Linked DNA regions of Homo sapiens. The protein of the gene in region 4 purifies or fractionates together with the protein of the main gene of each other region. This does not show direct contact. Each region holds a gene or a part of one and is shown on either strand. Other genes may lie near its edges.

Region 1 (3,500 bases), on a different chromosome or scaffold from region 4:
GTAGAATTTACTGCCAAGAACCTCCCCAGGCGGATGGGGAGAAAAGAAAAACCGGGAGCAGGTATGGCTGAAGATGGATGATTCTGAGGCTTTTTTTTTTGTAGGGGGGCGGGGGGGAACATGGAGTCTTGCTCTGTCGCCCAGGCTAGAGTGCAGTGGCACGATCTTGGCTCACTGCAACCTCCACCTCCCGGGTTCAAGCAGTTCTCCTGCCTCAGCCTCCCAGGTCGCTGGGATTACAGGTGCCCGCCACCGTACCCAGCCAATTTTTGTATTTTTGGTAGAGACGAGGTTTCGCCATGTTGCCCAGGCTGATCTCGAACTCCTGACCTCAAGTGATCCACCCGTCCTGGACTCCCAAAGTGCTGAGATTACAGGCATGAGCTACTGTGCCTGACCTTGAAGCTTCTTTCTGACTGATAGAGATGAGGAGGGGAGAAAACTGTCTTCTCACATCACCACAATTGATAAATGTATCCTGGCATCCCGTCTCTGAGATCTGGCCCTTCTGATGTTCCCCACCAACTGGGCTCACCTTATGTTGTCTGCTAGCTTCTGTTTGGCTCACTGGGGAATATTGACAAACTGGGAAGTGTCATTCCTACGTGACCTGTTTTTCTTTCTGTTTCTTTTTAGCTGAGATTGGGGATTTTGATGAAGCCTTGGACAGAGAGCACTTAGCAAAAAATAAATACATACCTCAGCAAGACGCACTAGAGGACAAAATCGTGGAATTTCACCATAACCACATGTAAGTCTCATTCTTGGCTTCATATTCCCTCTGAGCCGGTTCTCTCTGCCTCCAACCTACATGGGTGTACATCCCTCCACCCCCCACACAAACTATTGTGGAGAACAACACAAAGCGTGAGGAAAGAAGATCACAGAGGCTCATTGGGATGTGGTGATTCATCCTGGGCTCTCAGAAGCACAGGTCACCCACTGAAGCCTGGAGTTTAAGGATGCCCATGCTTTGGAACAAAAGAGAAAGTAAGAGCAAAGGACCATCCAGTCATCAAGCTAATGACAAATTGGGAAAGGGACGTGGTCACCTAGGGACAAGGTCAGAGTATCGTGAAAATCCAGAACCTTCATAGCATCTGCATTTTTGTTTTTGTTTGGATTAATATTTTCAAAGGACTCATGGTACTTTTGGTTGTTGTTTTAAGGAAGCATTGGAGCCTGACGGCCATGTGAAAAAGTGTTCTCTTGAACTTTGCTTGCAGGTTTAGGTTATTGAAAGCAACTAAAATCTTGTTTTAACCCAGTGGTGTTTTGCTTTTATATGAGCTTAAAGGAAACTCTTTGAGATTCCAAAAAAAACAAAAAAAACAAAAACTGGCTGAGTTTGGAGACTTTTGGGGTTTTATGTTCCATGAGCAGTGGAGGTTTTGTCCTAGCTGCTAGACTTTGGGTTACAGTGAATGGGAGATTGGGTGTCATCTGATCGGGTAGCCCCAGTGTTTGTGATGAAATGCCTTTGTATTTCCCAGGAGAAGCTTCTTAATCTCAAATTAATAGATACAGGGAATTCAAATCTCCTGGCCTTTCTGTTTAATTTTTGTTTTGTCAGTGGACAAACACCAGCAGAATCAGATTTCCAGCTCCTAGAGATTGCCCGTCGGCTAGAGATGTATGGAATCCGGTTGCACCCGGCCAAGGACAGGGAAGGCACGAAGATCAATCTGGCCGTTGCCAACACGGGAATTCTAGTGTTTCAGGTGAGAGCCTTGAGAACACGGCCTGGTTCCCTTGGTGACAGAGAGAGAAGAGCTGGCCCTTCAACTCTGATTCATATTCAGTGGGCTAAGACCTCTGATGGTTATTTTTCGGCGAACAAAGAAAAATTAACCTCATCTCAGGCTTTCTGTTTCCCAGGCCCTCAGCTCCCAGATTCTATTTCACTTACCTTTGCCCTGTTTGGGGAATCCACATTACAGATTTGTTTGGTTTTATTGACTTTGTAGCATCACAGAAACATGTAGCTCTCCATGGACCTACACTTAGAACACAGTCTAATGGAATCGAGATTTTAGGTCCCCGAATAAACACCTTTTTCACACTTACAGATGATACTTTGCTGTAATGTGATCCTTTTTTTTTTTTTTTTTTTTTCAAACACAGTTTGGCTTGAGCCAGCTTATTTGGTCGGGACTTCAGATATACTTAAAGAGTGTTAGGCACACTTTTAAGATACAGCAGTTTTATAAATTCATAAAAGCCACATTCTTGCAATTTTGTAGCAAAACACATACTGCACTTGAATTCTTACTTGTATTCTACTTAAAGACATAATGATTCTCTGCACTCTAAAATGTGTGCTCTATTGATCATTCTGCTATTGGACTGTTTCATTGATCAATGCTTCTCTCTTAGTAGCCTTATTGAAGTATTGTTGACGTACAATAAAGTGCACACACTTGAAGTGCATAGTTTGATAGGTTTTTATTATATATATGTATATCCTGTAAAATTCCCCACAAAACCAACAGAATGAACGTATTCATCACCCCCAAAAGGCTGTTCAGTACATTCCTTTTCAACACAAGTGGGTAACCTGTGCTTTTAGTTTCAAAGGGATATAGAGAAAGCACCCGCCTTTCTCATGAAATAGGATCAGATTTCACCCAGTTAGGAAGTTGTAAATATGTTCAGGACCTAAAACCCTTTATTGAGCTCTTCCAGGTTTGCTTATATTTCCCCCTTATCTTTTATCAAAAGAGTTCCAGTGATTCTCTATTCATGCACCAGAAGTTTATGACAGCATAATTATTACAAATCACATCCCAAGAAGAGTTAAGTTGGCTTCCTGCCAGGTAGTAGGGAGTGACATTGTGAGAGCAGTGTGGTATTCAAGGCGGATTTTTTCTTGACAGTTTTTGACCTGCACGCATAGCCTCTGAGTATCGGATAAGAGAAACAATAGGCCGGGCGCGGTCGCTCACACCTGTAATCCCAACACTTTGGGAGGCTGAGACGGGTGGATCACCTGAGGTCAGGAGTTCGAGACTAGCCTGGTCAACATGGTGAAACCCCGTCTCTACTAAAAATACAAAAATTAGCTGGGCATGATGGCGTGTACCTGTAATCCCAGCTACTTGGAAGGCTGAGGCAGGAGAATCGCTTGAATTTGGGAAGCAGAGGTTGCAGTGAGCCAAGATCATACGACTGCCCTCCAGCCTGGGTGACAGAGCAAGACTGTCTCAAAAAGAAAAACAATAAAGCCAAGTGGAGTTTTGAGTACTATCATTAAATTTCAAATCACAATCCTGAACCATTTCTAAAAAGTATTAAGAAGGAAAAGAAGTGTCTCACAATTGAATTAATGTGCTTTGATTGTGTTTGACACAATCCCTAAGTATTGGGAATACCTGGGTAATGTAGTCACGTGCAAAGCCTGTGTCTCGGAACCCACCTTCTTGCCAGTGCCCTATTGCTTCATTCTTGCCACGTTAAATGAACAGGCCTGGTGTTCCAGTGGGCTCCAGAGGAATTCTAAT
Region 2 (3,500 bases), on a different chromosome or scaffold from region 4:
TTAAGGAGTCTCGCTTTGTCTCCCAGGCTGGAGTACGGTGGCGCAGTCTAATCTCACTGTAGCGTCCGCCTCCTGGGTTCAAGTGATTCTCCTGCCTCAGCCTGCTGAGTAGCTGGCATTACAGGTGCTCACCATCATGTCTGGCTAATTTTTTTGTATTTTTAAAAGAGATGAGGTTTCACCATGTTGGCCAGGTTGGTCTTGAACTCCTGACCTCAAGCAGTCCACCCGCCTTGGCCTCCCAAAGTGTGGGGATTACGGGTGTCAGCCACCACACCTGGCCTATCCTAATTTCTGGATAGCTTTATTGCAGTTGAAAATCAGGGTTCCAGCTGGTGCGGTGGCTCACGCCTGTAATCCCAGCACTTCAGGAGGCCGAGGTGGGTGCATCACCTGAGGTCAGGAGTTTGAGACCAGCCTGGACAACATGACGAAACCCCATCTCTACCGAAAACACAAAAATTAGCCAGGCGTGGTGGTGAGCACCTTTAATCCCAGCTACTGGGGAGGCCGAGGCAGGAGAATCACTTGAACCTGGGAGGTGGAGGTTGCAGTGAGCCAAGATTGCACCACCGCATTCCAGCCTGGGTGACACAGCAAGACTCCATCTCAAAAAAAAAAAAAAAGGAAAATCAGGGTTCCTTGATTTTTTGATATTTTGGTGGGTTTTCTGACTTCTGCAGTAAATCACACATTTTGTTTTATGTAAGACAGTATTAAAGTCATCAACTCTTGCCAGCACATTCTTCTGTGAATTGTTTAGGTTTTGGCAAGACTAACTTCCCAGTTGCTTTTCTGTGACACCTGACCAACTTTTAAAATATAAAGCACCTCTGTGCCCAGGGGAAAGTCTCGTGCGCCCCGCAGTGGCAGCGACAGAGCATGGCGGGCCGAGAGTGACTGTCGTGAGAGTCCTGCCTGCAGCTTGGGGAGGAAGGGAACAGGCATCACAGCCAGGGCTTTACAACTTAAAGCTCAGCCTTTATTTACATTTTAGTTCAAGATGGGTTCTTTGAAATCTCAAATATTATGTCAGAATTAGAGAAGGAAGAAAGTCTGCTGATTGATAGGTTAAGATAGTTTTCCTGATGGTGATTCCACAAAGTGAGTGCCTGGCTGGCCGGGTGGAGAGGAGTTGGAGGGGAGCCCTGTCTCGGAAAGGGGCGTGGCGTGGTTGTGAAGACCTTGGACCGGGAGGGTTTCCTGGCACACAGCCCAGCCAAGGGTGAAGTGTGGACACCTCGCTGGGCTTCAGGGCACAAGAGACCTTGCTCATCACTGCTTCTGTGTTACAGACCAAGCTCCACGAAGATCTCTGTGAGAAGAGGACGGCTGCCACCCTTGCCACCCACGAGCTCCGTGCCGTCAAAGGGCCCCTGCTGTACTGCGCCCGGCCCCCACAGGACCTCAAGGTGCTGCAGCCTCCTTTGCAGGGTCTGCTGAAGAGTCTCCTTGGTGTCGAAAGACGCCATGCTGCTACTGCAGCCCGAACTTTTTTTTTTTTTGGAGATGGAGTTCCATTGTTGCCCAGGCTGGAGTGCAGTGGCACAATCTCGGCTCACTGCAGCCTCTGCCTCCTGGGTTGAAGCGATTCTCCTGCTTCAGCCTCCCGAATAGCTGAGTTTACAGGCATGTGCCACCACGCCCAGCTAATTTTGTATTTTTAGTAGAGACGAGGTTTCTCCATGTTGGTCAGGCTGGTCTCAAACTCCAGGCCTCAGGTGATCCGCCCAACTTGGCCTCCCAAAGTGCTGGGATTACAGGCGTAAGCCACCGCACCCGGCCTGAACATTTTCTTTAGAGTAGGATCCGATGCTGTTCTTGCAAAGACATGAAATAATGAAACAGACCGCGTTTGCGGTTACTCGAAGCGGTGCACAGCTGTGAGAGGACTCGGCGGATGAGCAGTCGTTGGGAAAATGGTTTCCTTCACTCGCTCACTACCTTTTAATCAGAAATTTTGGTCTCTGTCCCGATAGTAAAACCGTTTGCGTGGGGTTGGCAGTAGGGTGAGTTGCTGTGTCGTGCTGTCCTGGGCTGTTGAATCTGTGGAGTGCACGAGGTCCCGGCTGCTCAGCCTTTCTCTCCTCTTTTGGCCTTCTGAGGATGGCAGACCTCTGGAAACAGTTGTGCATGAGCTGGCTTTAAGGTTAAGCCCTGCCTCAGTAGGATCGGTGTGTTTGGGCGTCAGGTCTCCCCGGGACGCTGCAGTGGCAGCCCACATGCAGCTTCTTGCTGCGTGGTCCCGTGGGATGCTCCCTGCCTGCTGTAGAGATGAATGAGGGCGGGAGTCGGGAGGGCTCATTGAGGCTTAAGGCCGTAATCGACACGATGGGCGAGTTCTGTGGCTGTGACCCTAGTGGAGTTTGTGGGTTTCTGCCCGATAGATTGTCCCCTTGGGGCGGAAAGAAGCCAAGGCCAAGGAGCTGGTGCGGCAGCTGCAGCTGGAGGCCGAGGAGCAGAGGAAGCAGAAGAAGCGGCAGAGTGTGTCGGGCCTGCACAGGTGGGCAGCGTGCCTGGTGGGGTGGGGCCGGGCCCGGGGGAGTGCCGCATGCTGGCCTCAGCTGAGTTAGTCTGTGCTCCTCAGGAACCGCCTAATGCTACCAGAACCCAGAAGCTTCTTAACAGGGTACAAAGAAAGCATTCTCTTTCCAAAGGAGACGTTGTGGAACCAGTCTGTCATCTAGATGGCCCTGACGTGAGGGAAGTGGAAGGTGTTAGGAGCGGAGGTATTGGCCATTCCACAGGGGGCGGGTGGCCCTCAGGATGGGACAGGACAGGATATAAACTAGCCATTAGGAAACAGACATAAATGCCAGCCCAACCCACAGCATTTTATCCATACCGTGCGCTGTTGGGTATCATCCAAGTCAGGGTCCTTGGTGCTGCTCTAAGCAAGATGATCATCCGTAACTAGCCCAGTGATTTCTGTAAACACAGGCTTCAGAATACTTTGTTCTTTGAAGCTTGTTATGCTTGGGCCCTTGATATTACACTTAATTTGTGTAAAGAACTTTTTGAGTCGTCCATTTTACCCTTTAGGTATGTTTTCAGGTGTGTGCTTTTTTTTTTTTTTTTGAGATGGGGTCTCACTCTTGTCGCCCAGGCTGGAGTGCAATGGCACGATCTTGGCTCACTGCAACCTCCACCTCCTAGGTTCAAGCGATTCTGCCGCCTCAGCCTCCCGAGTAGCTGGGATTACAGGCGCCTGCCACCATGCCTGGCTAATATTTGTGTTTTTAGTAGAGACGGGGTTTCGCCATGTTAGCCAGGCTGGTCCTGAACTCCTGACTTCAAGCAGTCTGCCTGCCTCAGCCTCCCAAACTGCTAGGATTACAGGCGTGAGCCACCACGCCCAGCTGTGCCTTTTTTCTTTTTTTTTTTTTTTAAGATGTGGTCGCGCCATGTTGCCCAGGCTGGAGTGAGGTGGCTAATCATAGGCGCAGTCCCACTACTGATCAGCACCGGAGCTTTTTGTCCTGCTCTGTTTCTGACCTGGG
Region 3 (3,500 bases), on a different chromosome or scaffold from region 4:
TTGAAGGTGGGTAATGGCTCTGACTTGGGAGGCTCCAGTTTGCCAGGGAAACTCCTGGCACTGTCTCCATTCATAAAAGTAGAATCAAATTTCCCACAGTTGTGGGGATCTGGAGGCAGATCTGAGCCCCGGAATCCATTGTGTAGGAGACTGGGAGTAATGTGGTCTTTCTCCGCTTCAAATGACTCCTGGCGGCTGGTGTTCTTGACAATGACACTCACGGCCGGCACATCGGGGGCTGATCCTGAGTGAGACAAGGACACACTTTCATCCATACATATGCCTGGAGGTTTGAGGGGACTCTCATTCTCCTCACTGGGTGTCTGGATGGCCTCCTTGGCATCAAGGCTGGTGGGGTCTGGGATGTCAAAGGCAGCCAGAAGGTCATCAAAATCTGGGGTTTTCATATCCCCCATGGCTGGATGCTGGCAAGGGCTGTAACAGAAACAGAAAACAGAATCAGTGACCACCAGGGTCCCACTGGACCATCTTCACTACACACCCATCAAACTAATGCACACACAGCCAGCACACCCATGCAGAACCCCACATACTATGACAGGAAGCCACACACCTCAGTTTTACCCCAACAGGTTTCTAAAATGCTGGAGAGGTGGGGGCAGAGATGGAAAGAGTAGTGAAATGTAGCAACAAGCCTGCCTGGATGATCTTAAACCTCAGTACCTGGAAATTGGTGGCTGGTTATTACAAAGCCACAGAGAGTATACTCCTACCATACTCCCTCAGCTTCTCAGGGAATATCATCCCTCCACGATCATGTGCACTAGCAAAAAGCCACTTAGCACTTCCAGCCTTTAGAAAACTACTGATTAATACATGAAACCTGGCTATAACTTCTGCTAATTTACTCTTAGTAATTACTCACTAACTTTATATAACTTTGGGGTTTCTTTCTGCATAAATTCAATCAAATCCAAAATGATTTGCTATTTGTGTTGTCTCATGAATAAACTCTAGAAAATTATATCATCCCTAGGTATTTTTTCTCTGTTCAGCAGACACACTTGATTCCTTTTCACCCTAAAACTGTTATCAGTTGGTGAATGCTCCTCCATTAAACCTGAGGAACAGGGTGACTTGCAAAGTACCAACAGTTATCAAATTGGCCAAGTGACAGTTTGGGGGAAGCCTAAATTCTATTTTGACTAATATACAAAGAATAGGATAATAATTCTATTTTAAATTAATATACTTGTCTCCTTCATGATCTGGGAAAGCAGAGCTACAGAACTACTGCAACAGAGGAAACACAAGGCCCTAGAGAGACCTTCCATTAGGAAATTCTTATAAAACTCACACTTCAGATGAAACATGAAACTGGCTGGCTCAAACCTGCTGGAGGGAGAAGAAAAACCTCACCATCTCCCTTTAAGTCCTGCATCTGCTTCAGCATTCCAGGGCCTTTACTGGCTTAAGTGTTTCTTACGTCACATTTATGTTGAAAACCTTTCTGGATGCAGATTGGCACAATTCTTTCAGAAAGCAGTATGGTAGCTTCATAGAACCAGAAAAGTGGCAAACTTTAGGTCCAGGAACCCCACTTCCAGAAATTTATCCTAAGAACAAAAATTCTCAAAAACTACATGCAAAAGTATATGTTACAGCATTATTTAAAAAGCACAAAAGGGAGACATACACACAAAAATAATTTAAATGTCTAAGACCAAAAAAAAAAAAAAATACTTGATAGACTATAACGCAGTCATTAAAAATTCTCATTAAGGGCCCGTCGCAGTGGCTCTTGCCTATAATCCCAGCACTTTGGAAGGCCAAGGTGAGTGGATAGCTTGAGGTCAGGAGTTCAAGACCAGCCTGGCCAACATGATGAAACCCCATCTCTACTAAAAATACAAAAATCAGCCAGGCGTGGTGGTGGGCGCCTTAATCCCAGCTACTCCGGAGGCTGAGGCAGGAGAATCACTTGATCCCAGGAGGTGGAGGTTGCCATGAGTAGAGATCGCACCACTGCCCCCAGCCTGGGCGACAGAGTGAGCAACTCCATCTCAAAATAAATAAATAAATAAATAAATAATAAAAATTCTCATTATGAAATCTATATAGCAACAAGGAAAATTATTTATAATGTCAAGTTTAAAAAGACTAATACAAAAATGTTGTCAGACTATAACAATGTAAAACTACGCGTGCATTTGAGCCAAGATTTTTTAAAAAATGAAAATGATTACGCAGACTAGTGGAATTACTGTTGGGTTATTTTTTCAAAACTTTTTTAGGGGGCTGATAGATTGCTTTTATAATTTTTAAAGGAAAAATAACAACAACAACAACAACAACAACAAAACCCACTCAGAACCACAAGGCAGCAGGTGGCATAGCAGAGGTATATCTCTTACCACCCCGTGGGATCAACAGGTTTCCAGGTTTGGTTTCTTGCCCCACTCCCAACTCCCAGCAAAACACATCTGCCTGCATATGAGTTCTCACAGAAAATGAAAACTCACTCCCTCCCATTGGGAAGATATCTAATTATGGTAATAATAAAGTACAATACCAATTACCTAAACATGGGTTGGCAGAATACCCCACTGGAATGAGATACAAAGTTTTGAACAGAACGAATGTTTGTCTCTTGGAACAGGAGGTGTTGGAACCCATAAACAAGGGGAACATACTGGATGTCACTGAAAACAGTGGGCACTCAATACCAAGTGACCTACTAGGCAGGGTGATCATAACTATAAGGAAACTCCTGCATGATATTTGCTTTATAAGCTTCTTTTTAATTTCTTTTTTGTTCTTTCTTTCTTCTAAATGTCTAGGAAAGGCCAAGCGCAGTGGCTCACTCCTGTAATCCCAGCACTTTGGGAGGCTGAGGTAGGTGGATCACCTGAGGTCAGGAGTTTGAGACCAGCCTGGCCAACATAGTGAAATCTCATCTCTACTAAAAATACAAAAATTAGTTGGGTGTGGTGGCACACGCCTGTAGTACCATCTACTTGGGAGGCTGAAGCAGGAGAATCACTTGAACCCAGGAGGAGGAGGTTGCAGTGAGTCGAGATCTTGCCACTGCACTCCAGCCTGGGCAATAGACCAAGACTCCAACTCAAAAAAAAAAAAAAACAAAACTGTCTAGGAAAAAAAGATTGAGGGGAAAGGGCAGAATAGATTTTCCAGCTCTCATTAAGGAGCTGGAAAAAGCATGTGGGAGAAGAGGAGGAGAAGTTGATTGTGTGTCTAAGGATTAGCTGGGAGCCTGCTATTATCTAATATGAAGTTGCAGAGGCTTGAAGCAGAGAAAGATTAGATCAGAAGTAAAGCTCTCCTCATAGAGAAATCTCAGGGATTGACTGAGAATGGTCAGAAGTAAAGTAAGTATCTTTTGCTGGAAAATCAGAGCTAGTAAATAGTGTGAGAGCTCAATATTAGCAGCAGAAAAAAAAACTTTTATAGAGATTTTAGGTCAGGCACAGTAGCTCACACCTGTAATCTTAGCACTTTGGGAGGCCAAGGGAGGAGGA
Region 4 (4,179 bases):
CTGGGCCTGGAGCCGGGTCGCCAGGGTGCAGCTCCAGTGGAGGACCTTCAGCCCCAGGGCCCCGCTCAGCCTCCTCCTCCTCCCCTTCCTCAGCCTCTTCGGGCCCGGACTGTGGTTGCGGCTGCTGTGCCTCGTCATCCTCCTCCTCTGGCTTGTCACCCTCCCCAGCCCCTCGCCGCCTCAGAGCCTTGGCCCTGGTGGCTGGGGGGGACTTGCTGCCACTGCCAGGACCTGAAAGGCCAGTGCATGCCTTCTTCATTGGCTTCATTTTTGTCCACCTGCAGGGTGGGAGAGCGGAGGATTACGCGGAGCAACTCAGGAACCTCTCCAGAGCCAGTGTACCCTAAGATTTCCCACTTGCTGAGTCTACTGTCTCCATCCCACCATCCCCAAGGCCTCCTCTCTGGCTGCTGTCAACTCATGTGATACCTCAGTCAGCACCAGGCACAGGTGAGCACCTGAGTCCCCTGAGTATACACACTCTGGCTCCTTGGGGAACAGACACCTGCTGGCTCTGCAAAGGACACAGAGCACATGCTCTGAATGCCCCAAGGGGACATCAAAAGCACTAACAGTTCACACCTATGGAGCACTCCCTGTGTCCTGAACTCCATGCTAAGCTTGCCTTTATTAACCTGTTTCATCCTCACAACAGCCCTAAAAGCAGGTGCTACTATCGGCCTCATTTCACACCTGAGGAAACTGAGCCACAAAAAGATGAGACAACTTGTCCAAGATCATCCAGGTGGGAAACAGCAGTGCTAGGGTCTGAACCCAGGCTCTCTGGCTCCAGAGTCCGTGCTCCTGACCATTTCAGTGTGCTGCCTGTCACATGATCCAGAGGGCACATTTACTCGCACTGTCACCATGCAGAGAGTACATGCACTCAGACACACACACACATGCACAAGTACCAAGTCACAAAAAGGGTGGTGACTGGGCTGTGATATGAGCCTTTCTCCACCCCCCCACCCTCCCTCTGCCCCTCTGGGCAGCCTGGCATGGCCAGGCACTGTGGGAAGAAGTGGGCAGCTGAGAGTCCCGAGGGACGGCTGCCCACTCTGCTCTGCACCCTAGGGCTGCCAGGTACAGCCATCTCCCCAGATCCTGGCAGGGAGCAGGCAGGGGCATGTCTGGGGCAAGAGCTCATACCCAGCACTGCCACGGGGCCGTGCATGAGCACACGCACGCGCACAAACACACACACACGCACAGAAGCACGCACACGTCATCACACAGTGGGACACAGAGCTACACCCCAGGGTTTCTCTGTCCCACTGGATGGGAGCCTGCTCCTCCCCCCACAGCACCCAGCGTGATACCCGCAAGCCCAGCCCCCCTCTTCTTGCCTGCATGCATCCCCGCCCTGGCTGGGCTGGCTCTGGCAGGGTGGCTGAGTCGGCTAGCCCCCCGCAGGCCCCCAAATATGCCCTCCAACTCCAAGTGGGGATAGGTGGGATAAGGTCAAAGAAAGCAGGACAAGCCCAACAGGCCAACCTCACCCACTTCCTGAACAGTCATTACTGCCCGCCCCCTTTCGAGCTGCCCTGAGAAAAGAAAAGGGGAAAAAACTTTACTCTGAAGTGACTAAGAGAACCTGAGAGGCCAAAACAGAGGCCTCTAGGAGGGTTGGGGGACCCAGAACCATAAGCCAAACACAATGAGAGGCAACCCCGACTCAGTCTTCCAGCTACTGGGGGACCCTTGACCTCATGCTCTCTCACTAGGGGCCTGCTCCTCCTGTGGACCCTGGAGTCCCAGGCCTGCCCTTTCTTGGGCCAATCCTGGGGTCCTCACAGGCAGAGCCTGGAGGGCGTCCCGGGGCTGGCACCCAAATGCCCAGAAGTTGGGCAGCCATCACCACCTAATACCCGCTGACCCACTAGACTACCATGTTGGGGACTGAGATCTGGCTCCAGTTTTTTCCAAGCACAAACCTTTGCATACCCCACCCAGGGCCTACAACTATGCCGCCTGGACCCCTAGACCTTGCTGCCTGGCCCAGCCTCTCTTCGCCCCAGAGCTGCTTTCTTTCCCCTAGGGCCTACTCTCTTCCTGTCCACCCTGTCTGAATAACTCCCACCCAAGCCCCGGGGGCCCTCACCTTCCTCAGATCTGAGTAGTAACTCCCGGAGCCCAGGCCAGCCCAGGCCCTGGCTCTTTGGGGTCTCATACCCTCTGTTCCCATTAGCCCTCCTGGCACCAGCTTCTCTGACACTCTCTCTCTCATCCTGTCACTACCTCTATCTCTACCTCTCGGTTAAAATGCCCTAGGCCCCCTCCTGTCACCCCCTCCTTGTCACCCCCATTTATCTCTGTCACCTATTCCTCCCAGTCACTGTCCTGTCAGCCATCTCCGGACCTGTCACCTTCTCTCCCCATCACCTCTCCTTGTCACACTCTCCAACTCTGTCCCCTCCCTCTCCCTGTCACCCTGATCTAGTCCTGTCACCCCTCCATTCCTGTTACCCTTCTTTGCCCACCACCCCCTCCCCCAGTTACCCTTTTTCTGTCAAACCCCCACCACTTCCTCCACTCCCTCCTCCCTTCCCACCATTCCGCCCACCCCTTTCCCCCTGTACCCCCTCCCCGTCCCTGCCACCTGTCCCCTCTCGGCCCCCAGCCCCCCGGACCCCCCTTTCCTGTGTCAGCCCTGGCCCCGCCCCTCACCTTGGGCTCGGCGGGGTTTCGGGGCGGGGGGCCGTGGCCCCGGCTCGGTCCGGTCCGGTCCCTCCCCGCCCCCCCTCCGGCTCTCCCTCTCGATTCTCCCTTTTTTTTTTACTCCAACACACAAAATGGTGAATGGACCTGCAACAGCTGGAGCAGCCAGCCAATCAGCGATCACAACCCCACTGACCGGCGCCAGCCTAGACCAATAGATATCCGCAGACTGGTCGGCTCCGCCTCTCGACGACGAGCGACGCTCGCGGCGACCAATTGGGCCCATCGGGCAGCGCTAGGGGGCGGGGCCAAAGTCCAAGACCGGCCTCCCTCCGGGACCGACACCAACCTGAGCCTACGACTGCCTGATCTGCCTAGGGCCCTACCCTACAACAAGTGAAGGACACCAGTCGTGTCCAATTGCAGGCCGTCTTAGTTCCAAATGACAAATACAGTACCCAGTCGCCATGCAGCCTAGGCCGGAACCCAGCCTCTGTGAGGGACAGTAGCCAATGAAATGAAAGGAGGAGGGGCTAAGGGACGGGTTGTCCAATGAACGGAGGTAGAAGGCGTGGCCCGAACGTTTGTTGACCGGCTAGTCGCAGTTCCTGCTGGGAACCGTAGTCTTCTCACGTCTTCGGCCCATAGCCGACAGTACAAGGCAGACTACAACTCCCATGTGACAGAGTGCTTGGAGCACCAAAGAAACCCGGCGAGGAGAAAAAGTCGAAAAGGGCAGTTCGTCGTGAGTCTCACTGGACGCCAGGAGTATCTTAGACCCAGGGCCCCGACTCACCCGTATTCCTGGCTCTGGCGTCGCCGGTGGCTCCTCTCAGTGGCAGCGGTAGCGGCACGAGGGGGAGGTGCAAGGAGCAGCCAACCGCCACCCGCGAGCCCCGCAGCCAATCAGCAGCGGCCGGGGCGGTGCAATGACCTCACCGGTTCTACTCTCTTACCCCTCCCCCACGTGGTTGTTGCTGCCGGTAGACGGAGTAGGGAAGTTTGGATTGGGGGAGGGGAGGAGAACCAGTGATGTCACCTTTCCCCTTGTTGATTGGCTGCCGGGTGGCCGGGACTACGACCAATTGACGGTCTCGAAAAGTCTGGCGCGGCCCCGCGGAAAGCCCTGTTGCCACCGGGAGGGGAGAGAACGCGCGCTTGTGGGGTGTCGCGCGCTGCAGTATAGGCAACGCGCGCGGCCTGGGGCCCGGGGGACAGGTCACCTCCTCCAAGAGTTTGACATTTAGGACAGCGCAGTTTGACAGCCCACTAGGCATTGGGGCAGGGGGCCGAGATGACGAAATGCAGCGCTTCTTGGGGCTTCGCACTGCATTACGTGGAGAGCTACACTTTGTGGGTGTACGCCCCTGACAGAGGCAGATTTTTAAAGATCCCAGGGGTAGGAGGGTATCACACTGGAGTGGAGGAGGACAGGGAGATGCCCTGTTTGTAGTAGATGCCTGCTGCCCAGATACGGGTTTACAACCAGATGGTGAACCTGTCTGCAATGCATCTATG

What was found.
Region 1: the proteins of CIC (region 4) and FARP1 purify together in Homo sapiens (affinity purification with mass spectrometry, with the first as the bait; one large-scale study listed by BioGRID). This does not show direct contact.
Region 2: the proteins of CIC (region 4) and LRRC47 purify together in Homo sapiens (affinity purification with mass spectrometry, with the first as the bait; one large-scale study listed by BioGRID). This does not show direct contact.
Region 3: the proteins of CIC (region 4) and ZNF592 purify together in Homo sapiens (affinity purification with mass spectrometry, with the first as the bait; one large-scale study listed by BioGRID). This does not show direct contact.

What each region holds. Positions count from the first base shown.
Region 1 is NC_000013.11:98,384,094-98,387,593, forward strand, and holds part of FARP1 (FERM, ARHGEF and pleckstrin domain-containing protein 1), read left to right. Parts: intron 1-636; coding exon 637-751; intron 752-1,573; coding exon 1,574-1,721; intron 1,722-3,500. UniProt on the Homo sapiens protein: Functions as a guanine nucleotide exchange factor for RAC1. May play a role in semaphorin signaling.
Region 2 is NC_000001.11:3,782,999-3,786,498, reverse strand, and holds part of LRRC47 (leucine-rich repeat-containing protein 47), read left to right. Parts: intron 1-1,295; coding exon 1,296-1,412; intron 1,413-2,387; coding exon 2,388-2,503; intron 2,504-3,500.
Region 3 is NC_000015.10:84,779,592-84,783,091, reverse strand, and holds part of ZNF592 (zinc finger protein 592), read right to left. Parts: intron 436-3,500; 5' UTR 417-435; coding exon 1-416.
Region 4 is NC_000019.10:42,267,873-42,272,051, reverse strand, and holds the start of CIC (protein capicua homolog), read right to left. Parts: upstream 2,801-4,179; 5' UTR 2,671-2,800; intron 1,136-2,670; exon of another isoform or gene 694-1,135; intron 279-693; 5' UTR 269-278; coding exon 1-268. UniProt on the Homo sapiens protein: Transcriptional repressor which plays a role in development of the central nervous system (CNS). In concert with ATXN1 and ATXN1L, involved in brain development.